Linked DNA regions of Homo sapiens: region 1 is linked to region 2. Evidence: fine-mapped expression QTL. A gene starts in region 2. The other region holds a variant in brackets. All regions are shown on one strand. Distances are from middle to middle. Region 1 overlaps LINC02033 (long intergenic non-protein coding RNA 2033). Region 2 holds the start of DCLK3 (doublecortin like kinase 3).

What was found.
Region 1: its variant is fine-mapped to the expression of DCLK3 in unexposed skin (GTEx, PIP above 0.99).

The regions. Positions count from the first base shown.
Region 1 is chr3:36,805,065-36,821,300 of GRCh38, forward strand. LINC02033 (long intergenic non-protein coding RNA 2033) reads right to left here. Exons shown (of 2, transcript NR_147141.1): 2 at 15,486-16,236. Among named protein-coding and RNA genes, the nearest start is that of LINC02033, 9.3 kb to the right of the region's middle. The variant T/C (reference allele first, on the strand shown) is at 9,475.
Region 2 is chr3:36,754,023-36,769,097 of GRCh38, forward strand. It overlaps DCLK3 (doublecortin like kinase 3), which reads right to left and starts at 10,531. Exons shown (of 5, transcript NM_001394672.2): 1 at 10,160-10,531. The coding sequence starts at 10,241. It overlaps LOC105377029 (a long non-coding RNA gene), which reads right to left. Exons shown (of 3, transcript XR_940721.2): 3 at 14,966-15,075. It also overlaps the pseudogene HSPD1P6.

The sequences.
Region 1 (16,236 bases), 52 kb after region 2:
AGGTGCTACTCAGAGAATCTCTTGCTACTGATGATAAATCAACATCCTAGACGCTGCCACCCTGGCCAGCCTAAGGGTGCGTTTGCCGACTGCCTGGGCCTTCTCAGAGATCAAGGGGCAACATTTCTTTATTTTCTTATTCAAGAGTTATAGTTCTGATGTCATGTGGCCATCAGCCTTAGATCTTTATGTAGAAAAAAATCTCTATCTATCCCTCCTGGTTGTCCAGAGCTGTTAAAGTATGAAAGCAGAAGGGAGCTAAGGAGTTAGTGGAGAATACTTGGCAAGAGACTAGAGAAAACAGAGGGGAACCCAGAATTTGGGACCGCTCTTCTTCTGGTAGCACATGCCAGTTCCAAAAGAGCCTATCAATAGGGTAAGCTGCACTTTGGCACCTTCATGGATGTAGGGGCACAAAATAGAGTCTAGAGCCCACCAAGGGTGAGGTCCCTGGTAAACTCCCACACTTTAAGTTGGGGCTCCAAAAGGTTAGATCCCAGGATTAAGAGTGAATCAGAAGTAAAACATTCATTGTGCAGAAGTCATCTGAGTGATCCAGAAAAATTCAATCCCTTATGGCAGATTAAGGTGATCTTGGATTTTTAGTGCCCCAGGCCAAAACAAATTAAAATCCACACTGGAGGAAACTTTCATTATTCTAGGCTTCACCTATTTCTACAAACAATTTTTCAAATGTTTTTTCTTGTATACAATCAAAGATAATCAGTCAGATGAGAAGATAAGAAAGCAAGGATGAGAACTAGCAGAAAGAACAAATAATAGAAATAGACCCACAGGAGTTCCAGATTCTGGAATATCAAACACAGACTTTAGAATGACTTTGCTTACTATGTTTACATTAAAAACAAGATGAAAATTCTGGGTGCTATAAAAAGCACCTGAGAACTTTTTCCAGGCAGGGAGCTGGGGCAATCATAGGGCTCACCTCATTTGTTTTTCATCTCTCAAGGATCACTCTCTTGATTTTTAGTATGGTATACCATTGTGTCTTTTACTTTGTTCATGTTTTTTGGTTAAAGTAGGAAAGTAAATTCAGTTCCTCTTACTCCATCCTGATCAGAAGCAGAAATCGTACCCTAAATACTCTTCATTATACCACCTTGTTTGTTTCTTCACAAACCACACCACACTCAAACCATTTTGCTCATTGTCTCTCTGCTTAGCTATTACTTATCTTATTCATCAGAATACAAACTACATGGAGCAGGAAACTTTTTCTCCTATATCTACTGGATGCACATATATTATCTGGCATATGTCTGGCACATAGTGAATTATCAATAAATATGTGTTGACTAAATAAATAAATGAGCTCATAGCACCCAATGTGTACCTTCCAACTAAGCCAACAGAAGTCCAGACACCTTCTATATATGGCTCTTTGGGAATGGAATACATCCCCTCACTAAAAGAGCCCCTCATCATCCCTCCCAACTTGAGCCAGCAAGCTTCCCTCTCTGTCTTCTTGCTGTCCTTCTCTTTCTCCCATAGGACAAAAGGCCAGATTCATCCCTCTGACATCTTTTGTCTGGAATGTACAATGAATTTTTTTCAATTAGTGCCAAGATTTTATAATTAAGAGATTTCACTGACAAATATGAATTTCTGGCTTCTTTCGATCAACCAGAGCTGGCAACACTGGTTACTACTTGGAAACAGATTGCCAGAACACAGCCATGGTTACTCTTCTTAGGAGGGTCACATGCGGTCCTGTTCACCACAATCCCCACTCAACCAGCCTCACTGACTCTACCTATACAGCTGGAATAGGCATTGAAACCTAGGACCTGTTTTGGCTTTTGAAAACACAACCTTTTCCAATCCAAAGGAGACCCTCAATTTCCAAGACAAAAGATCTACTTGCCTTCGTGGTAAGCCTGGAAGAAATAAAGATATTTAATTTTCCCATTAGATTCCCTGGTACATAATAATTGTGCCCTTCACAGAAGGACCTAGGAAGGAGACTGATAAAGGCTAAAAGTTTGATTCCAATATAATAATTAAGAGTAAGTTCAGCTGCAAATAACACATCACTCAAAAGCATATTTAAATTAACTAGACAGAAGTTTATTTCTCTCTTTCCTGGAAGTTCAGAAGCAGACAATCCAGAGCTGGTATGACACTCCTCATGGTGAGTCTCCAGTTTCCTTCTATCTAGAACTCTGCCATGCCACTTTATGATCCAAGATGTCCCCCTGTCTCTAGCAATCTTGTCCATATCCCAGACAGTAAGAAGGAGGAAAAGAAGAACATTAGGTTTTTATTTTCTTAAACGACTTCTAGAAGTTAAACAAACACACTAATCCTGTTTCCATCCAGTTCTGATCAGAACGTAACCACTTGGCTACCCTTAGATAAAAGGAAGGCATAAATATACTCTTTATTAGCAATGTTGACCAGGTTACTACTACTTGGAAATGGGCTGCCAGAACGTGGCCATAACTATCCTTCTTAGAAGGGTCACATGCTGTCCTGTTTATCACACTCCCCACCCAACCAGCTTCACTGACCTTACCTATGCAGCTGGAATAGGCATTTGAACTTAGGACACCAGAATGTTAAACACCAGGGATTCTTTTTTTTATTATTATTATTATACTTTAAGTTTTAGGGTACATGTTCACAACGTGCAGGTTAGTTACATATGTATACATGTGCCATGTTGGTGTGCTGCACCCATTAACTCGTCATTTAACATTAGGTATATCTCCTAATGCTATCCCTCCCCACTCCCCGCACTCCACGACAGGCCCCGGTGTGTGATGTTCCCCTTCCTGTGTCCATGTGTTCTCATTGTTCAGTTCCCATCTATAGTGAGAACATGCGTAAACACCAGGGATTCTATTGCTGTAACAGAAGGGGAAAATGAATACTGAGGAATCACTTGTACTCTCTAATGCTCCGGTATATAAAAATACAGAAGAAGAAGAAGACCTCAGAAGAATACAGCTTGCTTCATGGATGATTTTCACTTGCTCTAAAGTTTCTTCTCGCCACTCCACTCCTAGGACTCTTTCTAATAAGGATTGAGACTCAGTAAGTGTTGCTGGAGCATCTAACATCTGCATAACTCCAAACATTGACATAATCTCAGGAAAATGTGGAGAAACATGCAAAAAGAACTGAAGTTGAATTTTCCTACTAACTGGTTGGATAGGGGATTGTGCTGGCCATTAAATTACAATACAGAAAGTAAATGAAGTTCTATTTTTCTTACACCAGGAAGACACTGAGCAAAAACACCTGCTATTGCTTTCCCAGACAAATCCTGCAAAACAGAGATCTAATGCTGGTGGCATATCTCTGAAAGCAGAATCAACACTCTGTCCCTGGAACAGTGGGATCAGCTTATAGGCTGGCTATAGGAGATTCCCTGGGTTCTGTTTGGCATGGGAAATAGGCTGAAGACAAAGACAGGAATAAAGAGACACATTATCTTGCAGGAAGAGTTCTGTGGTTGAAGGTGGATACAGGAAAGACTGAATTATGAGCATCTCTGCAGCTGCCAGTCTCTATTAGCTTAACAAATTACACACACGCACACACACGCACATGCACTCATGCACACACACACACACACATGCACTCATGCACACACACACACACACACACACACACTGCTGTATAAGCAAGTTCACTATGAACCCATCAGCTGGGACCCACCATTTGATTCTCCTGACAACAGCTGCAAAGAAGAGCAAGAAATATGAGGAACAGGACAGGGCAAAAAACAACATACATCAGAAACATACTGCCATGGAGCAAATGAAAATTGTGACCAAATATTTGACCACAACCTAAGAAATTAATGAAATAATCACCTCTTTAAAACAAGAGCACTAAGCCAAATAAAATATTCAAGGAAGAAACAACACTAGAAGATGTTTCAACATAATATGAAAAAACATCAAAACTTAGGAAAGAGGAAATAAAGCAATTGCAGAAATATAAACCAATTTGGAAGGAGCAAAAAAGACAGAGAAGACTGAACAAAGAAGGGAGAAAAAAATAAAGAAAATTCTGCAAGGCAAATTAAAAACTAAACAGAGTCAAACTACAAACTATGAAGAAATATTTGCAAGACATGATGAGTAAGAAGCTAATTTTCCTTCATATAAAGAATGCTGGCCAGGCACGGAGGCTCACGCCTGTAATTCCAGCACTTTGGGAGGCCGAGGCCGAGGCGGACAGATCACCTGAGGTCAGGAGTCTGAGACCAGCCTGGCCAACAGGGTGAAACCCCGACTCTACTAAAAATACAAAAATTAGCCAGGCATGGTGGCAGGCACCTGTAATCCCAGCTACTCAGGAGGCTGAGGCAGGAGAATCGCTTGAACCCAGGAGGTGGAGGTTGCAGTGAGTGGAGATCATGCCACTGCACTCCAGCCTCAGTGACAACAGTAAGACTCCATCTCAAAACAAACAAACAAACAAAAAGAATGTTGTCTTAGTACTTTCAGGCTGTTATAACAAAATGCCATAGACTGAGTGAATCATTAACAACAGAAACTTACTTCTTATAGTTTGGTAGCCTGGAAGTCAGGATGCCAGCATGGTTAGGCTCTGGTGAGGGCCTTCTTCCGGGTCGCAGAAGGCCACATTGCTCACTCTGCTCACACATGGAGGAAAGGGGATGAGAGAGCCCTGGGGTCCCTTTTATAAGAGCACTAATTCCATTCTTGAGGGCTCCACCCTTATGACCTAATCACCTCCCAAAGGCCTCGTTTCCTAATACCATCACACTGGGGGTTATGAATTTGAGGGGACACAAACATTCAGTCCATGGCAAATATATACAGTAAATAAGAAAAAAAAACAGAAACCCAAAAGAAAAATCCTCAAAGAATATGAATAGACAGCTCACTGAAAAATAAACACAAATGGATTTTAAATGTCTGAAAAAGTTATCATAAACAAACTGATAGTATAAAAAGTGAATATTAAAACTCAGATTGCTAGATATAACTACTCCATTGGCAAAGGTCAAAAAGCAAAATAACACATTGGCAAGGAAATAGGAAAATATGTTTCTCATACATTGTACAAGGTAGCAGAAATTAACCATCGGTGGATGGTAATTTGCAAAACTTATCAAAATCTCAAATGCACATGTACCTTGACCTACCAATTCTATTTCTAAGAATATATCCTGTAGATTTGCTCTCATATGTATGCAGAGATGAATGCGCAAGGTTATTAACTACATCATTATTTGTGATAGGAATTGGAAACAATGTAAATGTCTATCAACATAAGATTTGTTACATATGTTGTAAATGTAGAAAAAATGAGGTAGATCATTATATACTCATACATATAGATAAGTTATTCAGTGAAAAATTCAAAGGTAATAGTGTTGAAAGGAAAATTAGGAAGTCAGCAGTGAGAAGAGGAAAGAAGACTTAATTTACATAGTATACTCTCTGGTGTTATTTTAATATTTTACCTTATGAGCATAATTGATATGTCTATAAATAAAAAGCCAGTCAAAAATAATTAATTTTAAAATATATTATCCAAAGTATCCACTTTAAGCTCAATGAAAAATAATAAGAGGAGGTTATTTGAGAACCAATCCAAACCAAGACCAGACCAAACTCTCCAAGTGCAGTAGCTATTGGGAAATATTGTATATTTGTAGTAATGACTCCAATTTTTCAGTCCTTGTATCCATGCCCTTTGTTGTTGTCAGGTAAATTTCAGTGGTTTCTCGCTGTAGCAGGGACATAATTCTACCCCTGACATCCACGTGACTTGCTTTGGCTAATACAATAAAATGGAAGTGATGAGATGTCAGTGGTAAGATTAGGCTTTCAGAGACTGTGTGTTTCAGCTTGTTCCTCATGCTTCTGCTATCTCCATGAGAAGGACATGCCTAAGGATCCCACTTGTCCCAGGAGAAGAATAAGAGTCATGTGGACCAGATTGATTGCAGCTAAGATTGCGTATCCATTCTCAGCCTGAGCCAACCCCAACCTTGAGCAGAACCTCCAGGGGACTTACAGACACATGAGCAAGTCCAGTTAAGATCAGCCAAGTTCAACCTCATAACCTGTGAGCTTTAATAATGAATTGTTGTTTTAAATAATTGTTAATCCAGAAGTCTCACTACTGGGTATCTACCCAAAGGAAAATAAGTCATTATATGAAAGACACTTACATACATATGTTTATAACAGCACAATTCATAATTGCAAAGATGTGGAACCAACCTAAGTGCCCATCAACTAACGAGTGGATAAAGAAAATGTGGTAGATAGACACCATGGAATATTACTCAGCCTTTAAAAGGAATGAAATAATGTCTTTTGCAGCAACTTGGATGGAGCTGGAGGCCATTATTCTAAGTGTAACACAGGAGTAGAAAACCAAAAACCATATGTTCTCACTTACAAGTGGGAGCTAAGCTGTGAGTACACAAAGGCATACTGAGTGGTATAATAGACTTTAGGGACTCAGAAGGTGGAGGGTGGGAGCAGGGTTAGGGATAAAAAACTACACATTAGGTACAATGTACACTACTGGAGTGATGGGTGCACTAAAATCTCAGAATTTACCACTATATAATTCATCCGTGTAACAAAAAAAAACTTGTACCCCAAAAGCTATTGAAATAAATTTTTTTAAAAAAGGAAGAGGGAAGAGGAATTGCCCTTTGAACAACCCAGTGTCAATCAAAAAATCCCAATGTGTTCCAAGGTGTACTCTATCTCAATTCTTTGTATTCTTATAGCCTAATTAAGCACACAGATTTTCAATAAATGCTTATTAGAATAATTGGATGATTCAGAAAGTTTAGGACTACCTGGGGGATTTTGGAAAACTGACTGTGGATACATAAATGAAACTATAGATCATGTAGTGGTCTTTTCCCTGACACCTTAACTCTTGCCTGTCAATCATTTTGACTTCTGGCCAGGAAGTTGTGCAGTGCAGCGAGAAAATGCAAATGGGCAGAGAAGCAAAGGAGCCTCAGTTTCTTTCTTTGTGAAATGGATAAGAATAAAATAAAGCTCGTCTGTTATTAAAAAATAAATAAATAATTGTTAAGGTGGTTTGTTACATGACAATTGCCAGCCAACAGGGATGGTGTCAAGGTGTTTTAACCATATTACCTTGAATGGAGTGTGGTAAGGCCAGAAGCAGATTACAAGAGAGAAACAGGAAAGAATTCAACAGTTATTGTACTCACAGGTCCCTGGGAGAACACAGCACACCATGCAGGGATGCTCAGGTGAAGCTCCAGGCTGATCATGAGGCAGAGGGAGAAAGGGCACCTGTGGGCAGGTGCCTTTATTATGGTTTCTGTGGGAAGGAATGCGTGAGGCAGGGTAAGCAAGCTAGTTTGACTAGTTTAAGCCATTCCAGAATTAGCTAGTTCAAATAATTTCTGGGGCATGGGGGTTGTCCCTAGTCACCTGATACCTGGCCCTGGGGTGATTAGGGCAGGGGTAGAGCAGTCCAGGTGTATGGTAGCCCTGAGTGTGAGAGCCTAGTAGAGGAGGTAGCTGAGGATGTGGATTTAATTGGATGCTCAAGACAGAGAACTGACCAGCGTCTAGCCAGGGCCTCAACCCTGGATTAAGACAGTATTTTTAGAAAACTATAATACTCAAGTTCATAGTCCCTGTGGCCTTATGGATTTTTTTTTTTTCTCACAGAATATGTAGTAAGAAGCAGCTAGAGGCAGGCATCCTGGGGAAAAAATCAGATACAGGGTATATCAATTATTAATTATCTGGATTAAAACTCCATTGAGGGTGTTCCAGTTGCTATGGCTGCATAACAAACTACCCCAAAATACACTGGTTTATTTTGCTTACAGATCTGCCATTTGGGTAGGGCTCAGTGAGAACAGCTTGTCTCCATTCTATTTGGCATCTATGAGGGGCAGCCTAAGGGCCAGGGGCTAGAGCCATCTGAAGTCCTGATCACTCACGTGTCTAGTGGTCAAAGCTGGCTGTGAGCTGACACCTTAGCTGGGGTTGTTGACTAAAACACCTACATGCGGCCTCTCCATTTGGCTACATGGGCTTCCTTATAACATGGCAGCTGTGTTCTCCAGACCCTTGTGATAGGAAATATTGTAAATAATCTAAATATCTAACAACATGAAATTTGTTACATATGATGTGGAAGCCATATCATTTTTTATGACCTAACCTTGGAAATAATGCAGTTTTTCTTCTGCTATATTCTGTTCCTTAGGTTAGTAACAAAGCCCCACTCAGGTTCAAGGAGGGGGAAATAGACTCCATCTCTTGATGAAGAGTGTAAAAGTGCTGGGACAGCATGTGGACTAGAAATATTGCTGTGTCTGTTTTTGGAAAATACAGTCTGCCTCAGGGGATGGGGGAGCACAGTAAAAATGAGGTAGGCGGTGTCTCTGAGGTGAGAGAAGCGAGTAGGGGCATGACTAAGCTTGGCTGCGAAGAGCCTGGGAGAAGCAGGCAAGCGATGCCTGCCTGTGGTAGAGAGTGAGCTGGAGACGCTGGTAAGCAGCAAGGAGCTTTCACGGCCTGCCTGACAGTTGTCACCTTTCTTTAGTGGCATCTCTGCTGGGTGCTGCTTAGGACTAATGATGCCAGGGTGTGGTGGGAGGTTAAAAGTGTGGCTGAAGTTGCAGGAGTCAGTGGGACCTGATGCTGCATCAGGAGTGTCCTGGGCTCAGGCTTGGCTAGCAGGAGGGGCAAATCTGAAAGCTATCATGGACACAGTGGGGGCAGCAAATAAAATCCCTGTTATTTGTACAGTGCTAGGGAGGCATGGAGCAGTGTACTAGAAGCTGGTGAGGAAAAGGCAGGTTGCTTAATGTCTTTGACCTCAGTTTCCACATCTGCAAAGTGGACATTGCCTACTTTTCAGGGTTACCAGGAAGATTAAGTACAAGGATACCTGAGACATTTGATTACAAACGCCAGTTAGTGGACACTCCACATAGAGGCCATTATTGCTATGCTTGGATTCTCATGAGCCTTCTCAAAGGAAAAGGAACTAAGTGCCAATATTTTGTCCAGAAATAGACTGACTCCCAGGCGTCAACATCATCTCGCAATATTAATTCCTGGGAGCATTTACGGGGAAGGCAACAGAGTCTGATAGGGGAAATGATCCACTTCTTGATTTGAGCCTGACAGCTCAGAGCCTCCCACTCACAGCAGAGGACCTGCAGACTGGGTTTCCCAGAGAAACCAGCTACTTCTTGCTGCAAGGGAGGTGCCTCTATTTGAAGCTAAGACTGACACACAGCCCCAGATTCAGGCTGGAAAAAGGCCGGGAGCCTTGCTCTTCCCTCCTCCCCATGGGCCTCCCCCTGTTCTCTTTGCTTTCCCCAGGTCCCCTCTCAGGGCTTAGCTCAGGTGGCCTGGCCCCTCACCCATCTTGCTCTCAGGGCAGAGGAGTTGCTGAGACAGGGAACAAAGGAGGCCGCACTCAAACGCTGACAGTCTCAGA[T/C]GCACCCACTCAAGTGCACACTCTTGGCCCTGATTCTGTGTTAAGCTGTGAGCCAAAAATACATCTCATCTAGACGGGAAAATGTGTCTAGAATAGCATTGTCTGTACCCACACACACACACCCTACCAGCCCCACCAAACTTTGGACTGACTGTACACTAGGCCTAGCAAGCAGTAGGTGCTCCATTCCCAGCCTTCCCCTCTTTTTTCTCCTGCCTTCTGCCCCTCAGGGCCAGCTGTAAGTTCACTTTGGAAGTCTGCAGAACTGGTTCAAGGGCTCAAAAGAATTCTCTTTGACGATCCTCTGGTTCTCTTACTCCCTTGGAAACGAAAGTCCAATTCAATTCAACAAACATTGAAAAAAATTCAATAAACACTGAAAAAAAATTGAGCACCTACTGCAGGCCAGCCCCCTGCTTAATACCAGGACAGGCCACTAGGAGCTCTTCGCTAGAGCAGCACAGCCCCACAGAGCTTTCTGGGCAATGAGAATGTTCTAAACCTGGGCCATCCAATACAGTAACCACTAGCCACATATAGCTACACTGCACTTAAAATGTAGCTAATGCGACTGAGGAACCAAACTGTCCATTTAACTTCATTTTTAATTAAATTGTCACAGGTGGACAGTGATTGCTACGTTGGAGAATGCAGGCTAGAAAGAGGCAGGTGTGTGCATGAGAGCTCTCTTCTACCTTCCACTCCAAAGTCCTACAATACAGCAGGAGAGCATCAGGGTTAGGGAAGGCTTCTTGGAGGTGGTGTTCTGGCAGAAGAGGATTAAAGGAGGCAGAGGATTTCAACAGGGGAGTCTAGGTGGGAAACGGACTTCCAGGCAGACACTAGCACTGGGCAAAGGCGCAGAAGCCGGAAGTGGGGCATGTCTCCAGGGGGCTGTTAGGAAAGGGGGAGGCTGGTACATCAGTTCCTTAGGGGTAAAGGGAGTGAAATGGGACATGAGGCTGGACTAGCAGGCTGAGGAGAGCTTGACTGTCAGGCTACACGCTGCGGGCACCCTGCTGCCTTTGAGCAATGAAACGATACAGTCAAGGTAAGCTTAAAGAAGCAGGCAGCTGTGTCTAAGACAAATAAGAGGGCAAGCTGGGCAGCCCTGGGAGGTGGGTGCCGTTATCCAAGCAAGAGGGAATGAAGACCTGAGTCGGTACAGACGCAAGGATTTGGGAAAGGGGGAGTGTGAGTGTACCCTCGAAGCCACTCCTAGCACCTTCTCTGTCTTGCACCCCTAGCACCCAGCTAAGTTTCAGACTATAAAAGGAAGTCAAAGCACATAGTAAGTGGCCAATAAATGTTTGCAGGGGGGAAGGATGAAATCGAGCAATTTCTTAGGTATGATGATTGGTTAGAATGTATCCTTGGGGCTGAAACAGAGATATTGATTCATTCCCTTGAACTCCAGAGAGCTCTTGGGTGCTTACTAAGGGCTGCACACATAGGTATGGGGGATGTGGCATAAAAGAGCCCCAGCCCTGTCCTCGGGGAGGTCACAGCCTCACTGAGGGAGGCAATCAGCTTCTGAGGCTCCTGTCTGAATCGAGGATGGCCCTTAATGAAATTTGAGAAGTCAGGAAGAAAAGCTGGCAGGTCGGGCAGAGCATTATTGTTTGGGGCATGCTAAGTTCAGTGTGCCAGTGAGACAATCAGGGTGGAGAGGCCCAGCTGGTCCTTGGAATAGGTGTTGGGGCCACTATCTTTGCTTGTGCAGTCCTGAGCACAGTGGAGAAACTGAGGGAGCAGGAGGGGTAGAGGTGTCCAGGAAGTAGAATCAGAAATGGAGGCAGAAGGCAGTGCCCACAGAACAGGCTTCATGCTCCCCTGTCACATCACAGGTTCTGGTCTCTGTGATTGTGAAGCGGGACTAATGGACTCAACTAAACCTATTCTCCTTTAAGTGTTGCTCAAAAAAACCAACACCTTTACCAATGATATGGGCTAAACTGTGTTCCCAAAATTCATATGTTGGAGTCCTAACCCCCAGTACCTCAGAATGTGACTGTACTTGGAGACAGTCTCTAAAGAGGTAATTAAGTTAAATGAAGCCATTAGGGTGGGCCCTAATTCAATATGGCTGATGTCCTTATAACAGGAAATTAGGACACAGACAGGTTCAGAGGGAGCCCCTGTGAAAACAACGGGAGGAGACAGGCACCTCCCAGCCGAGGAGAAGGCCTTACAAGAAATTAAACCTGCCAATGTTCTGGTCTTGGACATCTAGCCTCACCACCATAAGAAAATAACTTTCTGCTGTTTAAGCCATCCAGTCTGCCTAGTGCACTGTATGGCAGCCCTAGCAAACTAAAACACCTGGCCATTGTTCAGTGGGTGACAGCTTTAGGCAAGAAGGCCTCTAATCCTCTTCTCCTTCTGCCAAACAGGCAGTGCCCTCCCCACTGAGCAGAACTTCCCTTCCCCTTCCCCTTTCCCACAGGACCCCACTCCCACACACCTACTCTCATCCCAACAAGGGTGATAAAAGGATTTTAGAGCCCTTCAGGTTGCAGTCTCTCACTTTTTTAAAATATCTCTTGTAATATACGTAGAAAAAGCAGTGTTTGTCCCTTGGCAAAGACTCCTCAGATATATTCCCAGACTGAAGTTCACATGCACTAAACAGCAGTTGCTTTAACTCCACCTGGACACCCCCAGGCAGCCTATGCATTTTTTTTTTTTTTGGCCTTTGAATTAAATGCAAAGAAGAAACAGAGGGATAAGAAATTCAGCCACATGCATCCTCTTCCTCTGTGCCTCAGCCCCCAAAACACACCACACACACACACACACACAGAGAGACAGGAGAGGGCATGCATCCCCTTTCCCTGGCAACTGTCCTCTCACTCAAAAGCTGTGCCCTTGGGACCAAGGCCACCTCCTACCTCCTCCAGCACATACAGCCTGACAGCCCAGCATCTGTCAGTTACAAGCCGAGGTCTCCCTGACAGCCCTGACCTGACTTGGGGTCCTAATAGCTGAGTTCTGACAAGTGAGGAGAGTTGGTGATCAAGGGCAGCAGTCCTGCGGGCAGCTCCAAGGACTCCAATGCTTGGCATCAGGCACGCCAAATCCCAGGGTGGCAGGGTGCATCTTCTGCCTTTCATCCAGCTGTTCTGACATCTCGACGCCCCGGCCAGAGGAGATCCATGTTTTACCCCTAGCCCTGACCAAGCTCTGAGCGAAGTTGAAAAAGTCACCAACCTGATCTGTAGTTCTGCCCACCTGCCTTGTGAAATTAGGAATATCCATGCAAGAGACTCCTTCCCTTCCTTGGATCTGACTAAGCCCTCTGTTGTCCCAGGGGTCCCTCTCTAAGGCCGACAAGATGGGACAGTGAGAAAGAATCCCTGACACTGGGTTCACCACCGTGGCTCTCACTCAGGAAAATGGACTTTGGGAGCAGCTCAGCCTGCAGCTGACAGGTAACAGCTGTGGGGCGGCTCCAGCTCCTTCCCATTGGCAAATTAGCACCTGCCAGACCTGCAGTCAAAACAGCCAAAGGACTCTGGATCATTGGAAGTAAGCTGACATCTGCTTGAAGGGAAACTGAAAGGAGGAAAGTGGTGGGGTAGAAGATAGAAAAAAGGTGTTCTCATCCTCAAGAAAACCTCTGTCCTCTCTATTTCTGTGCAGTTCAAACGAACTTACCAATGCCTGGGCTACTACTGGAATGGAGGTCCTGGGGGACAAAGCTAGACAGAGCTCTCAGGGCCTCAGTTTCCATCTGCATAATGGATGTACTCAGACATCTCTCTCATGGGAGTGTCGTGAGTATTCATGCAGGGCCAGTCCCTGTATGCACCAGTACCAAAGGACTCAACCCAGTACATGACAGCTGTTACTACTGAAAGAAGTCAGGGAAGGAAGCAGGAGGATGCCATCAGTCCCAAGACTCAAGGACAAGGATGCTCTCATGGAGTAAAATAGGAGGTGTAAAGCCAAGATTACGAAGAGCAGGACACCAAAGGATCTGATGATAATGTTCAAGTTGTACATAACAAACAGTTTAAGTGATTCCCTTTTAGTTACTGGTGGGTGGAGATGCATACCAGGTATGCCCTTGGGACCCAGGCCACGATCCACCTCCTCCAGCACATATAGCCTGACAGCCCAGCAACTCCAGAGTCTACATTTATTTTAGCAGGATTTCTGCTTCTTCAAAAATTTTGTTTCAAAGCTCTTCGAAATAAAGTTGATTCAGGTCAACTGGATGAGAAGCACAGGGCCAAGCCAGACCCAGGTGAGACCTCAAAGGACGTCTAGAGGAGGATCCTTTCCTGCCAGGCTACCACTGCTGTGGAACCCACAACACTGGCTCTCAATATTGCTTGGTAAACACCTGAGTGCAGACAGAGGGTTCTCTTCTGACCACCTCTTTGGGCCACAAATGTTTTCCCTCTCGAAACTCTCTATTTTGCTGTCTAAAAATTTCTTAGTTGTTTTTTGTGACCACAAACATAACCCAAACTATTTTAAAAAATCTAACTCTTACCAAATAATTAAGGACACCAGCAACAACAATTTGGCACTGAATTTTTGTTTCCATTTTACAAAGTAAAGAAATAAATTGAACCAAGAAGGTTTCTCTGTGGCTTGAGTTTTCAATGAGCAAGTGATCTTTGCCATATTTTTATACCAGCAAATTTAGGTAGAAACCAACCCATGTTCGTGGTATTCAGCCATGCCCCTGAGGAATACATGGATTTTCTCCCATCTTGCACTCTCCCAGACACTCCTGAAGTAAACGTTTATTTGGGAACTTGTAGAAATGTTTCTTTAATATAAATTCTTAAAAGTAGGAATGCTGGTTATATACATACAATGGAATATTATTCAGCCTTTAAAAGTTAGGAAATTCTGACCCCTGGTACAACAGGGACGGGCCTTGAGGGCATTATGGTAAGTGAAATAAACCAGTCACCAAAGGACAAACAACATATGATTCTACTTACATGAGGTAATAGAGTAGTTAATTCACAGAGACAAAGTAGAAGGGTGGCTTCCAGGGGCTGTGGGTAAGGGGAAATGGGACTGGTGTTCAGTGGGTGCCGTTTCCAGTTTGCAAGATGGAAAAGTTCTAGAGATCTGTGGCACAACAATGCAAACATACGTAACACTACTGAATTGTATACTTAAAAATGATTAAGATGGTCAACTTTATGTTATTTGTATTTTACCACAATCAAAACTAACAATAAAAAAGAGAAAAGGACTGCCCAAAACAAAAAATGGGAATGCTGGATCCAAGGGTGAGTGCATTTTCAGTTTTAACAGATATTGTTGAAGTGCACTCAAGAAAAGCTGGACTGATTTTTGTTCTCATTACAGTGTGTGAGGGCCTTTCTTGTCCACTTTTTCTCCATAATGATTTGGTAATAGCACATGGGAGAGAAAATGGGCAGAAACTGATACACTTTACTTGAAGTATAACAAAAGAATATTAGTCTGCTCAGCTATGTCCTGATCCTCAAGAGTGGCCACAAAGTAAATTGGGTTGCAGCTTTCTGCAGGGTAGGTGCAGATCTCTGCGATGCCTCCAGAAACTCCAGAGTTATTCTGGTTCTCTTCCCCCATCCCACTCCCTAACCTTAAAATGATGACTCCAAAAATCACAGACTGGCCTACATATTTCCCTTAAACAGCTGTCCTACAGAATCACTAAAACTTGGGTTAAAAATAGTCTCAGTCTCTAAAAGAAGGCTGGGTCCCTGGAACAAAGCCCTCTTAGAAATGCTCCCACCACCACAGAGGGAACACAAAAGCTGACCCATGTGGCCCCAGGGCTCCTCATCAATCCTGACCCTCCCTGCCACCGTGGAAACAGAGAACCTGCCTGAAATCTTTTCACATCCTTGGTCCATCTGTGAAACAGAAGTCGGAATACAGGGAGAATAATGCAATTACAACCAAGCTATGCGTTTGTGCCATTATTTCCATTTTATAAATTCCCAGAGCTCAGAGAATTTAAAATTTAAGTAAGGCGTCTGAATTCACACAGTCAGTATGAGAAGCCACATTTTAATCTTAGATCTTGCTCCAAAGATACTGTGATGACAGTACCCTGTTCCCCATTGCAGCCCATCCCCCTAAAATGTCCTGTCAGATATTCAGGTCACATCATCCATAAGAAGATACATTCTGAGTCTTAAACAGAGGACATAAAGTCCTGAACAGGGTTAGAATTCTGCAGCACCAGGAGGAAGGTTTCTAAACAACCCACCTCAAGAACACCTGGTACCTTGCTGATGGGTTATCCCTTCTTACTGAGCAGAGAAATGCATTTTCCTGGGTGGTGGGTGGGAGTAAGGATCAGCTGTCTGTTGATGGCAGGCCTGATTTATCTGCTACCAAAAGGAATTAAAGTCTATCGGGTTAAACAGAGTTTTCCAGTGAACTCTTCTTAAACTTTGCACCATTATGGTGGTTGTTGGGGGAGGGGAAGGTGGCTCCTCAAGCGCCCACCTGGGCTTTTGTTCTCCAATCAAAATCTCTGAAGCAGATTTAGAGTGACAAGATCAGGGGAAGCCAGTATCCATTGTCTAGGAGAGATATTTGTGGCAGAAAGGAGAGCAATTTCCTGCTGAATTGATTTACCCATCCTTCGAATCATGATCTTACAGATGACCCGGGACACAGGTTTCTACATGGTATTGTAGACCTGGGACACAACTACATGGTATTGATCCAGGAACATGTTTAAGGCATCCCAGATGCCAGATTAGGCTGCTGGAGAAGGCCAGGGAGAACTTACTA
Region 2 (15,075 bases):
TCATGTTACAGAATGTCTTTGGAAAATATAATCTTCAAAACCAGTAAAACATCTTCAGTTATGCAGTCTTTGTAGAAAATGGTCAGTTCTTTGGATTCTAAGTTAATATTATCAATGGCATTAAAGAAAAAGCACTAAAAGTTCCCAGCAGCCAATGCATGGCTTTTATGCTTATAGCAAACTTATATGCTAATACTAGGAGCTTCCTTATAAATCAGATGACTTGGAGATCTACAATCCTTGGACATCAGTTGACTCCAAGAAAAAGGAGCTTCAACCTAATGTATTTCATTTCTTTCTGTTTCTCTTTTCTTTTTAAATTAATAAGCCCACTGATTTTGGTTTTCTTAACTTGAACACAAGGTAAGACCCCTGTTAGGGACGTAGTCACCTTTTATTTTACATTAAACAGTCTGACCTGCCAGGCCTGTCTTTAACATTACTGAAGAGGTGGCATCCTCTGACATCATCTTTTCTTATCCAGACCGAAAACGTAAACACATTATTACTGACAAGTTTCAATCATCTAGGAGAAGACTTTGATTTGGTGCTAGTAGTGTCTAGGACCAGTCAGAGACACTTACAGGTAAGTTTTAAATGTGTGAGAGATTATATCTCAAAGAGAAAACCCACAATGAACCCAAGCTATTTGTTTTCATGGCTCCTGTAACTCTGCACATGTTCTGTGATGGAGAAAACCTATGATTGCTACCACATAGCCAACTCCTTCATGTATCTTTTCTCTCCATCTTTCCCTGTCTCCATGAACTTATTTCAATTCTAGGACATACCTATGTGTTTGTTCTGAGCCACCTGGAAAGGCAATTAGAGTACATGGACTCTCATGAAATAGTTTTTATATGTTTTTACTTCCAAATATAATTAGAAAGTAGTCAGCTATAAGGCAAAAAAAATCATTAATTACATATATTAACTATCTATGAATTTTCTATATGTATAGTGAAGCTTATATGTACATACAAGCTTTTGACATAACTGCAATAAATTGAAAAACACATGAAAAAATTTATACATTTATATGTCAACATATAGAAAATTGCTAGGAATAACTAACAAAAAATGTGTATGAGCAACATAAGGAAAACTACAAAACTGTGAGAGGAATTAGAAAAGCCGTTTAAATGACTGTCCATTCCAGAATGTAAAAGCCTAATAGACATATCAGTTCTTCCCATTTGTAATTTGTAGGTTTTGTGCAACTGAAACACTAATACAATTTTTGAGGGAGGACAGGAAGGAGATGAGTAGTGAGTAATGAAGATAGTAAAATATATTACAGAGCTACAATTACAATGTCTTGGTACTTGCACAAGAATTTAAGAAAAAAAACTATAGTTCCAAAATAGATACTACTTTATATGAGAATTTAACGTATAATGAAAGGTGATTACAAACTAGCCAGGAAGGTTAGAATGATTCTTATTCAATATTGGAACAACTGGTTAATAATTTGGAAATAAAATGAATTTAGATTCTTATTTTACAAATAATAACAAAATAACTTCCAGATGAATTAAAAACCATAGAGAAACATAAATTTTACTTTAATATTAATCAAACTACTGAAGAGGAGGGGAGTTTGGAAATGAGAAGCATTAAAGGAGGTCATGGGTAGCAGATCCCAAGAGTTCTTATGGACCAGTGTAGGATGGAGAAGTGGAGGATGGGCTGACATCAGTGGTGGCACCCAAAAAACGACAGTGTGACACTGTTTATCAGATAGATAGGTGCCCCAACTGATAAATATCAAAAAGCTCTAGGGCTACCACAATAAAAGACTCTTGCTTGTATGAATCCCAGTGTAAACCTAGCAGCTTTCTCCATCTCTGATCCTCCATTCAAAGCACATGGCCTCCAAGGTGGCCCCAGCAGCAGACGAGAAAGACAATAGTGGTATCCTGGCTTTCAACTGCCTGGAATGAGAAGTGACACATGGCACTTCCACCTACAGTCCAGTGGCCAGAGCTGGTCACATAACCCCAACCACCCCAAAAGATTCCTGGGTTGGTCTCTCTCAAAAGCACAGCCTAGGGCAAGGATATGGGTTGATTTGGGAGGTGATCTCAGACAGCACTAGAGGAGAGTGGAAAAGTGAAGTAGGACAGTGGCATGAAAGAGTAGGTTACTGCTATGGCCAACCTGGGCTCAGTTCTGCTGGGAACCTCTGGAGAGATTGAGTAGAACATGCCTCAGAGTTATCCTTCCAGAGGGGCAAGGAAACTGTGATATTCACCCATCCATTCCCTTCCATTGGTGGTTGAGGGCTGCTCCCAGGACATTAGCTGCCCAGCACTTCTGGGTGTGTGCACCAGATGGGGGCCAACCATGCCCCTGCAACCAAAGAAAGTCATCCAACAGTGTTGCAGTGGCTTGCAGTGGGAACCACCAGAACAGGAAAGATGTGTGCTCAGGGACCATGGACAGGGACTGATAGCATCTGCTAAAGAAGGGGAGCACATGGGTTATCTGGCAAGAACCACTGCCTCTGGCACAAATGGAGAGACCCAAGCTCCAGGGGACTTTGGTTGTAGCCCTCTGAAACCGAAACAACATCTGAACTAAAATGAATAACCAGCCTTGTCTAACCCATTCCTGGAAGAGACATTCCCAAAAAGTTATGGCTGTTATTGCTAGGAAATCTGCTGCTCCAACCAACCCTGAGACCCAAAGATACTTCCTGTAGGGTGCCTTGGACTAGCTTGTGGGTATGGAAACTGCTGTTAGGGGAAATGCCCTGCTAGTCTGGGGGGATTCTGGGATGAAAAAACATGGTGCCATCCTCAAGTGGCATGTGGTGTCTGGGGGTGACAGGTATGCCTTCGCTCACAGAACCTTTATCACAAGTTCCAGATAGACTCAGAGGCCCTCCAGGGGAGGCTACACATCTCCCTGGAGGGCCTCAGAGGCTCTGCTATGAAAACAATGCCTGAGACCAGGAGAGAGCATAAGTTTCTCAAGTGGGAACAGGAAAGTAAAAGCCACTTCTGGCAATCTGCTCATGTTGCTTCCCTCCATCAGTTGGTGCATTAGGTTAATTATTTATACAAAAAGTAAATACCAAGTTACATTTTAAAATATGTAATGCCAAAATTTTAATTAACATGAGATTTTACTCTAGAAACCACAGGGGTTTATTTTCGGTTTGTGAAATTTTTGTCTGTTTGTGTGGCTTTGTGTTCTCTGCCCTCCACTTCCCCAAAGTGCAGTGTTTCCATTTTACTTCTTATGTAATTACCTAGAGATCATTTAACCTCTACTCATTCCTCAAAGAATTTTCAGTATCTCCATCCAAAAACACAGAGTGGAAAGTTGATCGTTTGTGCTCTTAAAATAAAAACTGAAGGCAGAAAACTAATCTCACATTATATGGCATGACAGCTTCTAGCTCAGAACCATCCACAATTTTCTCAATTTTTTTCACCTCCTTTGAACATACAGAAAACAAAAAAAAAGTATGTGCTTAATCAGGTAATATTGCCAGAATCTGCTCCTACAGGACAGAAGCAGCAAGCACAATAGAAAAGCTAATAAAGCCATTCAAATCATCTTAATGAGCACTAATTAATGTCCCATAGAAGAAAAATAGACACTGCAAGATGTAGCAGTTTCTCAGAAACTGGTTCAGGAAAAGTCACATCAGTGAGAAAAGATGGGATGGTGAATACGGCAGAACACAGTTCTGGTCTTGAGCTCTTCTGTTCTTGCCATGGACATCTGACACCTGCGGTCCTCATCCTGGTCGGTGGTACCACCAACCACCCTCGACCTCCAAGACCAAGAGTCATCCCTGACTCCTCTTCCCTTCCATCCCCTCCCACATCGCAGTCAACCTCAAAGTCCTGTGGATTCCAGCTCCTGCGTGTCTCTCAAATCCATGCTTCCTCTCTCCCATTACCTTAACTACATCTGAGCACCTGCCCTCATCACATCTTAGCTCAGCTACCTGCAAGCCTCCCCAGATTCTGCTGTCTCAGCCTTCCTCTCTCCCCCTCAGCCACCCCATACACCCTGGGAAAAGTGATGTCTCTGAACCATAAAGCTGGTCATCTATGTCCCCTTCATTAAACACTCCAGTAGTTTTCCAGCTGTTTCTCAAATTCCAGGAGATCCTCAAACCTATCTTAGGAGGGTCCATGAGTTCTCAAAATTGTGTTTTGTTTAACTTTCTGTTTTCACTTTCATGATCACCTTTTTTTAAGAATCAATAGAAACATATTCTGGATCATCTGAATGGCCATGTTATGACTAAGTGCTACCACATAATTTCACCATATATACTCTTGCATTTATACTGTAGTTGATGCTATGGTCTGAATATCCCGGAAAATTCATATGTTAAAACTTAGTCCCCATTGTGGTGATATTGAAGGGTGGGGGCTTTGGGGAAGTGATTAAGTCACGAGGGCTCTACCTTAAAGAATGGATGAGTGACTGACAAAAGGGCTGAAAAGAAATAGCTTAGGCCCTTTGTTGGTTCCTGTTCCTTCCACTGTGTGAAGACACAAGGTCCATCCCCTTTGGAGTGTGTAGCAACAAGCAGAGAATAAGCCTTCACCACACATTAAGCTTGCAGGTGCCCTAATCATGGCCTGCCAGTCTCCAGAACTGTTGGGAAAGAATCTCTGTTCTTTACAAATTACCCAGGCTCAGGTGTTTTCCTATGGCAGCACAAACAGACTGAGACAGTTGGCATCAAGAAACATTATTTTAATTATCACAGGCCAATGAGAAAATAACAAATCAGGTTTAGTGTATAGAAAGGAAACTGATGAGAAAATTGAGCCATCATAAAACCTTGTGGCATGGCACACTGCACACCAAATTCATAAGAACCTGAACAACAGCTGTTATAACCAGAAATAGGGATTTCATTTTAGCAAAAATAACTTCATCCAGAACATTAAATTCATGAGGTTAATCCAAATGTATTTGACTTGTAGCTGTGTTGATATTTTATTTATATATTTGTTTTGGTTATGTGGTCATATGAAAGCTCTAAGTATAAAGAGTTTAGACCCATGTAAAACTACTACATATCTGAACTGCACTATAATAAAAATAATTTAAGCAACACTAGGAATCTACAAGAATTTTTTTCCTTTAAAGGAATTCCCATATTACTCTTATTTGAGAAACTGTGGCCTCAGAATGAGGCTTAAGCTTCATAACAAGACATATGTGGGAGAGTTGATATTCTCTGACTTTTTCTTCCATCCCAGCCGCCATCCCCTATTTCCCAGCCCCCTGCGCCCACAATTAGTTCTGACCAATGGGCTGTGGACAAAAGCAACATTGCATTCATTCCAGACGAGCCAGAGAGACACTCTCCCTCTATCTCTTCCTGCACTGGTGACTACAGTGGCCACATTTTCCAGATGGCAAGGCTGAAAACTGGGAGAAGCTCTGTCTACTTGGCTATCAATTGACCTGTGAGGGACACACATTGTGTGTGAGAAGTAACCTTCGTTGAGTTAAACTACCAAGATGATGAAGTTGATTTGTTACTGCAGCAAAGCTTAGAAAACCCTCCTGACTAATACACTTCATGAACTGAGCTCTGCTCCCTGATCAAGTCCTCCCCATCACACTCCATGCTCCAAACAACTCTTAGTTCAGTGACCTGAACACACCAAGCTGTTTCATCATGGCAGCCTACTTTTGCACATGCTGTTCCTCAGTCTTAGAATACTATTCCACACACTCTTCTGCCCTCCTCCAATCCCAGACACAGTGATTTATCCATCAAAACCCAGTTCAGATTTAATTACCACCAGGAAGGGTTCCTCCCTTTCTTAACTCTCTTACCTGCCTCTCCATTACCCTAACGCCACAGAGTGCTCATCTCACCATATCATAATCGTACATTTCTATGTCTCACACCTCCTCACCCACTCCCCGCAATCACACTGTGGCAGGGGCAGTGATGGGCCAATGGCTTATTCATCTCTACATCCTCAGGGCCAGCATGCAAGAGCAGGCAGTATTTGGCCATTTGGCCAGGAAGAATTTCCTCCAGGAGGCTGGTCCTAGGGCATTTGAAGGAAGCTGGGTTTGATCCATTATCTACCCAGTAGGAACATCCTACTCAACAGCAGCAATTCCTAGCTCTCTCTACCCCAGCTCCAGGCCAGACCTGCCTAGGAGGCCTGAACCCTCCCCATCATCTCTCCAAACACAGTGCTCTTCAGGTCCCACAAAGGACTCAGGCTTTACCCAAGAGGGAGTAGCCTAGGGCCTTGTACTCAAAATGTGGTCCCTAAAGAAACAACATCTACATAGTATTCCATGGTGTATATGTGCCACATTTTCATTCTCAGCAAACTATCGCAAGGACAAAAAACCAAACACCGCATTTTCTCACTCATAGGTGGGAATTGAACAATGAGAATACATGGACACAGGAAGGGGAACATCACACACCGGGACCTGTTGTGGGGTTGGGGGAGGGGGGAGGGATAGCATTAGGAGATATACCTAATGTTAAATAACGAGTTAATGGGTGCAGCACACCAACATGGCACATGTATACATATGTAACTAACCTGCATGTTGTGCACATGTACCCTAAAACTTAAAGTATAATTAAAAAAAGAAAGAAACAACATCTACAGAACTTAGGAGCTAGGGAGAAAAGCAGAATCTTAGGCCCCACCCTAGACCTCCTGAATCAGAATCTATATTTTAATAAGATCCCCAGATGATTCATATGTCCAGCAATATTCAAAAAGTACTGGCCCCAGGCAGCCAAACAGAATCCATTCAGCTAAAAGGTAACTTTAATAACAATACTTTTCATTTGTAATAATATCTGGTAATTGCTTTACATCACTAAATCCTCAGAGCAATTTGAATATGCCCATTTTACCAATAAGGAAACCGAGGCTCAGAGTAGTTGGGTATCTCGCTCAGGATCACATGGGTTTGAGGGGCCAGAGCCCAAATGTGAAAGCAATTCTGATGGACTCACCTCCATAACTACACACTACATGACACCCTGCCCTTTGCAAATTCTGTCAACATTTAGCCTTCAAAACCAGCCCAAGCAGCTCTGGAGACTTCCCTGTCCCTTCATGCAGCCACTGATCTGGTGATTATCTCTATTCTACCACTTGCTATCCACATCATGATGCCTCTACATACACCACTGTCCCCAAGAGATTGCCAGTTGTCTCTGTATAAAGATTTTATGGGCTTCCCCTATAATCACTGGATGAGTCCATGAAAATATTTCCCCTTTGACCATCAAAGAACACTCTGAGGCTGGCTGAACAATTGCTATTAAATGAATGGTGAAGATACTGAGGTTCCTAGAGAAGTTCAGTGACTTGCCCCAGGTCACCAGGAGGCTTCAGAACTCTGAGGATGGAGCCAAACTCCCCTCCCCAATTCCCAGTACAGATGTCTTCTTCCCACTCTTTCACTTTCCCTAGATTTCTCTCTTCTGACCTACATTACCAAGCAGTTAACAAAAACATTCTTTTCAAAGAACTCCCCCACGTATGCATCTTCAAAAGGGGCTCTGCTCCACCAGCAGACGGGCAAAATTTAGACATTATCAAGAGGCCACCAAAGGAAAAGGTGAGGAAACTCAGGATGCCAGATCAGATACAATGACCCTCCTGGATCCAAGGAAAGGAAAACGTCTTCAAGCAAGAGCCTCCAACTAAAGCAGCCCATCCAAGCCCCTACCCAGTAACCTCACCGTCAAGACAAGACCCCTCTGAGAACTTCTGGAGGCTGGTGGAGACCTACCCACCCTCCCTGACCAGGCACCACCACCCGCCTGCAGGCTGCAGGATTGAGATTCCACCAGCCAAAGCAGCCCTTTTCCTCCCCTTTGTTGGCTTTAGAAAGAAACTAAGACTGGCTTGTCCAAAGAAAACCAAAACATCTGCCTGAAATATTCAAATATTTAGGGGAAAAAAGGGGAAAATCCCTCTTTGGGGGATTTTTTCTTGGGAAAAAAGAGAAGCCAGAAATGAGATCCTGGGACAACTAAGCAACTCTGTTTTTTGCTTTTCTGAGCACCACGCCACCATGATCATTGAGTACTGTGTGCACTGCCAAAGAAGCACTGATCAGGGGGCTAGTGGACACTGAACACCTGTCTGCCAATCCGTTGCCTGGGCATGGGGATCCATCTGCCCAGAAGGGAACACCTTTTGTGAATTCATACAAAGGCACCCTACAGGTTAGCATGGGCTACCTATTACCGATGTTAGTCATGTTTGGATAACATAGGAAGAATAAAAACATTGACAGTGAGAAGGGTCCATGTTTTTATCTGGATTCCTTAGAATCAGATCCTGAGATAAGAATTCCTATGAAAGTGTATTAGGAGATATTCCTAGGAAAAAATGGTAGGGATGTGAAGAAGTAAAACAAGAAAAAGTAGCAAGCCAAGCGAGGGAAACAAGCCAAGCAAAGAACCATAGAGGTCAATTTGACACAACTCCACATTGGATCTCTGGAAACAAAGGATGTCATGCTTCAGAGTGTCCCAATCAAGGGCAAAGAAGCTGGACTATTTATACTCCAGCACCCATCAGTCATTGAGGAGGGGCTGCCCCAGGGGAGATGTAAATTCCCAGGCACTCCCTGTTCTGAGTCCCTACAAACATAGGCTCTGCCGCCCAAGGGTCATCCTCCAACAAAGAGATGGAGGGACTGGCAATTGGAAGTGAAGGCACCCAGGGTACCAATACGCACCAAGATGGCAAAGCTCACCATAAAAGAACATGACTCAAAAATCTTTCAAACCTAAATGAAAGGAGTTACAGAACATCTTTCAGAAAACACTTTCTGCCCCTCTTTGTTCTTTCTTCAGTGAAGCAATTTAAATATTAAATTGAAATGCTTTTCTAAAGTTGGGCTGTGAGGCAAACCCAATACTCTTTTCTTTTTTTTTTTCTTCCTGAGGGTCTTGCTTCTTGCTACTTTATCCTAAGGATAAGCACAATGCTTGCCTATTGCTGTAGATGCCTCATTGATCAAGATCATTAGCTCAACATCAGCCCAACAGATCTCCACTGTAAGCAGTTACACAGACACTTCACAGCTCCTAATACAATCATCAAAGTGCAGGGCCACCTAATTAATGCCAAGAGGTTTTATGACAGCCAATGATGAAGGTGGGACCCTGCTTCAATTTAACAGCTGTCATCTTGGACAATACATCAAGGAAAGGAAATGGAATCAACTAGGAGGGGGTGAGGTGGAGGAATGACTAACTGTTAGGATTGAATAACAACGGAGTTCCCTCCACAACTTCTCACACACTTCCCCCCTCCCAGCAGGCAGATACTCTGAAAAGGTGTCCCCAGACGCCTCTGCCAAGGACTGGCACAGCCTTCTCCCTTCCTCACCACACCTCGCCCCCAGGGCCAGACATGGAAAGGAGTGTAAATGTGATCCTATATTTGAAATTAATTGATAGGATATTTCACGAGCTCAGATTTTTTTATATTAATTCCCAAATGCTCTGCCTGTATCCTTTTTCCTAATCATCTTTGGTTCTTCTGTGTTTCTTTAGTTCTAAGGAGGGTTTCTTGTCATTTAGATGGGTCAGAGACCTCTAGAGACCTGGATCCAACTCCAGCTCCGCTGCTATGGAGCCGTGTGACCCTGGGCAAGGCACGAGCTCTGTGGGCCTCAGTTTTCTCATCTGAGAAATGGGGATAATTCCATTCTTTACAGATTTGTGGAGAGGATGAAATACGCTTAACTCTAGGTGAAGCGCTTGGCATGTTGAGTTGCACAATAAATGTCAGCTCCCTCCCTGCGCCTTCTCCCTTCTGCAGCCTCACCGCACCTGCACCTTGAAAGACACCCAGTGCGTTTCCCAGGAAGGGCCCCCCTGCTGGCGAGGGAAATAAAATCAGCTCCGGAGAGCGTTATTCCCCTAGAAAGCAGGTTTCAGGTGGTGTACACCCGCACGCGCGCGCGTTTACACACACGTACACACACATACACACGTACACACACATACACACACACAGTCCTCCGTACACCCACGCGGGGTCTGGCACTGCTGCTACATCCCGCACGGAGCGGGGTCCAGAGTTAGGGCGAATGAGTCCTCCCGCCCCCGCCAAGGTGGCGCCCAGAACGGGTCGGTGCCGGAGCGCACGGTACTCACCCGGGGCAGGCCGCGCCGGGCAGGCTGGGGCTGGCCGGGCCGGGGGCGGCGGCGGCTGCGGGGCTGGAGTGGCGGCGGGCATGGCGCGGCGGCGGGCTCGGGGAGAGCCTGGAGCAGAGGTGGCAGCGCGGGGACGCGGCTCGACGGTCGAGCAGGCGCGGGAAGGCGGGGCGAGACGAGCAGCCACGAGCCCGCGCCGACTCTCCCTCTTCTCTCCCTCCCGCCGCCCGCCGCCCGCCTGCCAGCCCCGCGCCGCGCAGCGCCCGGCGACAGCCACCGGGAACGTCTCCGGGGGCGCGGGACTTAGCAACCGCGCACCAGCTGCAGCCGCCCTCTCTGCGCCGGTCCCGCCATGCGCGCCGCTCCTGGCCCTGGAGGCCGGGCGGGGCCGGGCTTTGAACTTGCTCCCACACCCCCTGCTTCTCCAGTGAGCGCCCAAAGGCGGTCCCGCCTCTCCCCGGTCAGCGGAGTCCAGCCTTTCTGCTCTCCTTCCCCGCGCAGTTCCGCGGTGGAACCTGGCTGCGCTGGGTTTTGAACGTGCGCTTTGCCCCTGTTCTCTGTGGGTGGGTGGCAGCCCAAAGGCGACCCCAGGACCACCAGCCATCCTCGTGCCTCCCTGCAGGGCAGGGGCCAGACTTTCCACACCACTTCCTTCCTCCTATCCCATTCCCGCTCCTTGGATACACTGACCGTAGGTCCCAGGGCCGTTCTACTCTAACACCCTTGTTGCCCCCCAGATTCAGAGACCTGCTTACACTCTGGTCCACACCCATGGTCTCAAAGACTTAGGCTGCAAAACGTTCCTCCAGCCTAGTGGCTTCTTGGTACCATCTGAAGGCAGCTCGATGGCCCCTTGCTTTGTTGTACCTCTTCCCAGCACCACACACCTGTTCCTCATATTTGCAGGTCCCTCAGGTCTGCAGTGCGGGGTCTGGGGACCCATATTCCCGGGTACTGACTCCCAGATCTCTCCTGCGTCAGATAATAAATTCACTGGATCAGCCATACCCTTCTCTCCACAGGGCCGTTGACATGATTACAGAGTGGTCTGGCTTTTGCCTTTATCAATCAAGTCACAAAGTGGTCTTGTCTGTTGGGTCTGATGTTGCTGTTCTGTGAAATTGTTTATGCTCAACAGAACGCCAAGGCCGAGCTGATAGAACCAGACCAGCTCCCAGATGGCAGGGGCTGTCTTTCTCTTTATCACACATAACAAGAAGCCTGGAAGAAGGCTCCTCTGTGTGTGTTCAGCTGCTCAGGGATGACGTTAAGGACTCAGTCTCTTTCCATGATTCCACATGGCCACCTTCAACATCTTGCCTTTTCTCCTCAGACTTGTTGCCTCAAGGTTCCAAAATGGCTGCAACAGCCATGCCATGATGCTGCTGTGCAAAAAATAACTCCTGGTTCTAGCTGGTTTGTTGGCCAGGTACTCTGAAGTCATCATCAAGGACAGTTTTCAGCAATCCAGTTCACCAATGGTGAACACAACAAATGCCCTGCCTTCAAGTCACTCACCTTCTAGTAGGGGGAGACAGATAATAAAATACACAAGTATGGTGATAAATAGTATGAAGAAAAATGAACCAAGAAAAAGGGAATGTGATTATGTAAGTTGAGTGGTTGGGAAAGGTAACATTTGAGTAAAAACCCGAAGGAAGAACCTATTGGAAATCTCTCTGGGAGACAAGTGTCCTTGAGATACTTACACACTTTCTTTTTAAAATCACTTACTTTTCTCTTTAACAGCCACTCTTCCTGGCCCTATCACCTATATTTTAGGAGAAAATAAAAGTTAAATAAACTGAGTTTTAGTAAAAAGGTTTAAGCTTTGTAAAGGAGAGATCAGATGACTTGTGTTTTCTTCCTTGCAAAAGCAGCAATCTCACAGTGTTTAATTATTGGCTGGATTATCATGATTTAAATACGAACTAGATATACACATATCAAGCAATCACAATGAACACCTTAAGTTATCAGATTACTTCACAAGAGTGAGGGATATATCTTGTTGAATATTGGCAAAGAAATTGCTAATTGCCTACTCAACACCTATTTTCATTTCTGATCCGGTATTTTAAAAAAAATGTTTTTTAGCTAAGCATACTACCACCTGCAATTTAAAAAAAATACATTTTCTAGCCTCCCTTGCAGCAAGGAGTGATGATATGAAAAGTTTCTGGCCAATGAAATATAATTGTAAGTGTTGTATTGGATTTTCAGTAGATGCCTTAAAGATGCTGATTTGGCTGACAGATGCACTCCTTTGTCCCTTTTCCTTCGTCCTGGAATCCAGGTATAATGATGTGGTAGGTGAGATTATTAATTTCAGTTATTCACTCCATTCCTCAATTGAATTGGACAATCCACCCTTTATGGTACTTGGAGTGTGTTTCCCTGTACCTTGACTTTAGGCTTGGCCATCTTTCTTTTTCTTTCTTTTCTTTTTTGTTTTGTTTTGTTTTTAACTTTAAACAATTTTTTATTACACAAAGGTTGTCACATAATTGGATATTTCTCTACTTTGTACATAATTATTCTCACCCTCCACAGAAAGTCTGCTTAACTTCTCATCTGGTGGTGGCAAGCACTAAAATCCTGATTTTAACAGAATAGTAGTAAAAATGCCTCAGTTATTTAAGTTGAAGGCAGTACATTGGTACATGACTCTTGTACCCAATATCAGGAATGTACAAATGTCTTTTTATTCAAAAATACAAAATAAAGTATTGATAGGCATGGACAATGACAGCAGTAAACCATTATATATTTTGTCAACTGAACCAGTAACTGATGGTTATAATGATTTCTTAAACATCAGCCAGCCTTTTCTTCATTTTCTCCAACTGACTTCTCTGAAGTTATTGGTGAGGAACACTGCCTTGACTTCCTGTCACAGTTCATTAATAAAAGTAAAGCACTATTCTAGGAGTTACAACATGCCCCCTCCCATACCACATCCCATTCCACCCATTGCACCCATTCCAGGGTCCTTCTCTTCTTTAGGAATTTCTGTGACTACAACTTCTGCTGTAGTTAACAGAGAGGCCACACCAGCAGCATCCAATAAAGCAGTTCTCACAACCTTTCTTGGGTCAATAATTCCTTTTCCCACCATATTCACAAAATCTCCGACCCTAGTAGCATCATAACCAACTTCTGAGGAACGTTGCATAATTTTCTCAACTATCGAAGATCCTTCAACACCTGCATTCTTAGCAATGGTCATTGCTGGAATTTTGAGTGTTGTTTTGATTGTTTATATACCAATTAGTTTATCTTCATTAGCTGGAGTCAATGAGTCCAAGGCTGGAATGCACCAAAGCAGGGCACAACCCCCTCCCAAAACAATGCCTTCTTCAACAGCAGCTCTGGTAGCATTAAGGGCATCTGTAACTCTGTCTTTCTTTTCATTCGCTTCAACATCACTTGTCCCACCAACCTTTGGCATAGCTATCCCATCTGAAAGTTTTGCCAGTCATTCAGTTTTTCCTTTTCATATTCACTAGTTGTGACATCTAACTGCTCAATGATTTCTTGAATATGTTTTTCAATTTGAGCATTGCCACCTTTTCCTTTTAAGAGCATGGCATCATCTTTGGTCACAATGACCTCTCCAACTTTTCCTAAGTCATGAGGCTGAACATCTTCAAAATGTAGGATCAACCCCTCTTCTCCAAACACTGCACCAACAGTAGTAACAGCCATATCTTTGAGCTGGTTCTTTGTCACAAAACCCTGGAGCCTTGACTGCCACAACCTGAAAATCAATCTTTAGGCTGTTCAAGACAAGTGTACTTAGAGCTTCTCCACCAACATCTTCAGTGATTATGACCAAAGGCTTACGGTGAGCACTGGCAGTTTCAAGAGCAGGTACAATGGACTGGACACTAGAAATTTTCTTTTCACTCAACAGAACATATGCCTCCTGGAATTCACATTTCTGACCTTTTGATGTATTAATAAAGTATGGAGAAACATAGCCTCGATCAAACTTCAAGCTTTCAATAATTTCTAATCCATCATTCAGTGTTTTCCCATCCTTTACTGTTATGACACCCTTTCTTCCCACCTTTTTCACTGCATCAGAGAGGATATGGCCAATTTCTTTGTCTCCACTTGCAGAAATTGTAGCAACCTGCGCAATTTCTTCAGGGGTGGTCACAGGTTTAGACTGCTTTTTAGGTTCAGCTATTACAGCATCAACAGCTAACATCACACCTCTCCTGATTTCCACTGGATTAGCACCTTTGCTAATCTTCTCAAAGCCTTCCTTGGCAATAGAGCATGCCAGTACAGTAGCAGTGGTAGGGCCATCCCCAGCCTCTTCATTTGTGTTATTGGCAACATCTTGAACGAGTTTAGCTTCAATATTTTTATATTTATTCTTTAAGTCAATTGACTTTGCAACAGTCACACCATCTTTTGTTACTTTGGGACTTCCCCAGCTCTGCTCAATAATCACTGTTCTTCCCTTTGGCCCCATTGTAATGGCTACAGCATCGACTAAAAGGTCTACACCTTGAAGCATTAAGGCTCAGGCATCTGCACTGAATTTTACATCTTTGGCATAAGCCCGAGTGAGATGAGGAACCAATACCCTGGACAATGGTCTTATCTAAAGACAGTGGGGAACCGAAGCATTTCTGTGAGGTGGTGGCAGGGCATGCCCGGGGCGTGGCGAGGCAGGTCGGCAGTGAGTGAGGCCTTTTTTTTTTTAAGACTTAGTTTCGCTCTTGTTGCCCGGGCTGAAGTCCAATGGCGCAATCTCGGCTTGCTGCAACCTCTGCCTCCCAGGTTCAAGTGATTCTCCTGCCTCAGCCTCCTGAGTAGCTGGGACTACAGGCGCACACCACGACACCTGGCTAAGTGACCATCGTTCTTACTTAGGCCAGTAGGATGTTATTGAACATAAT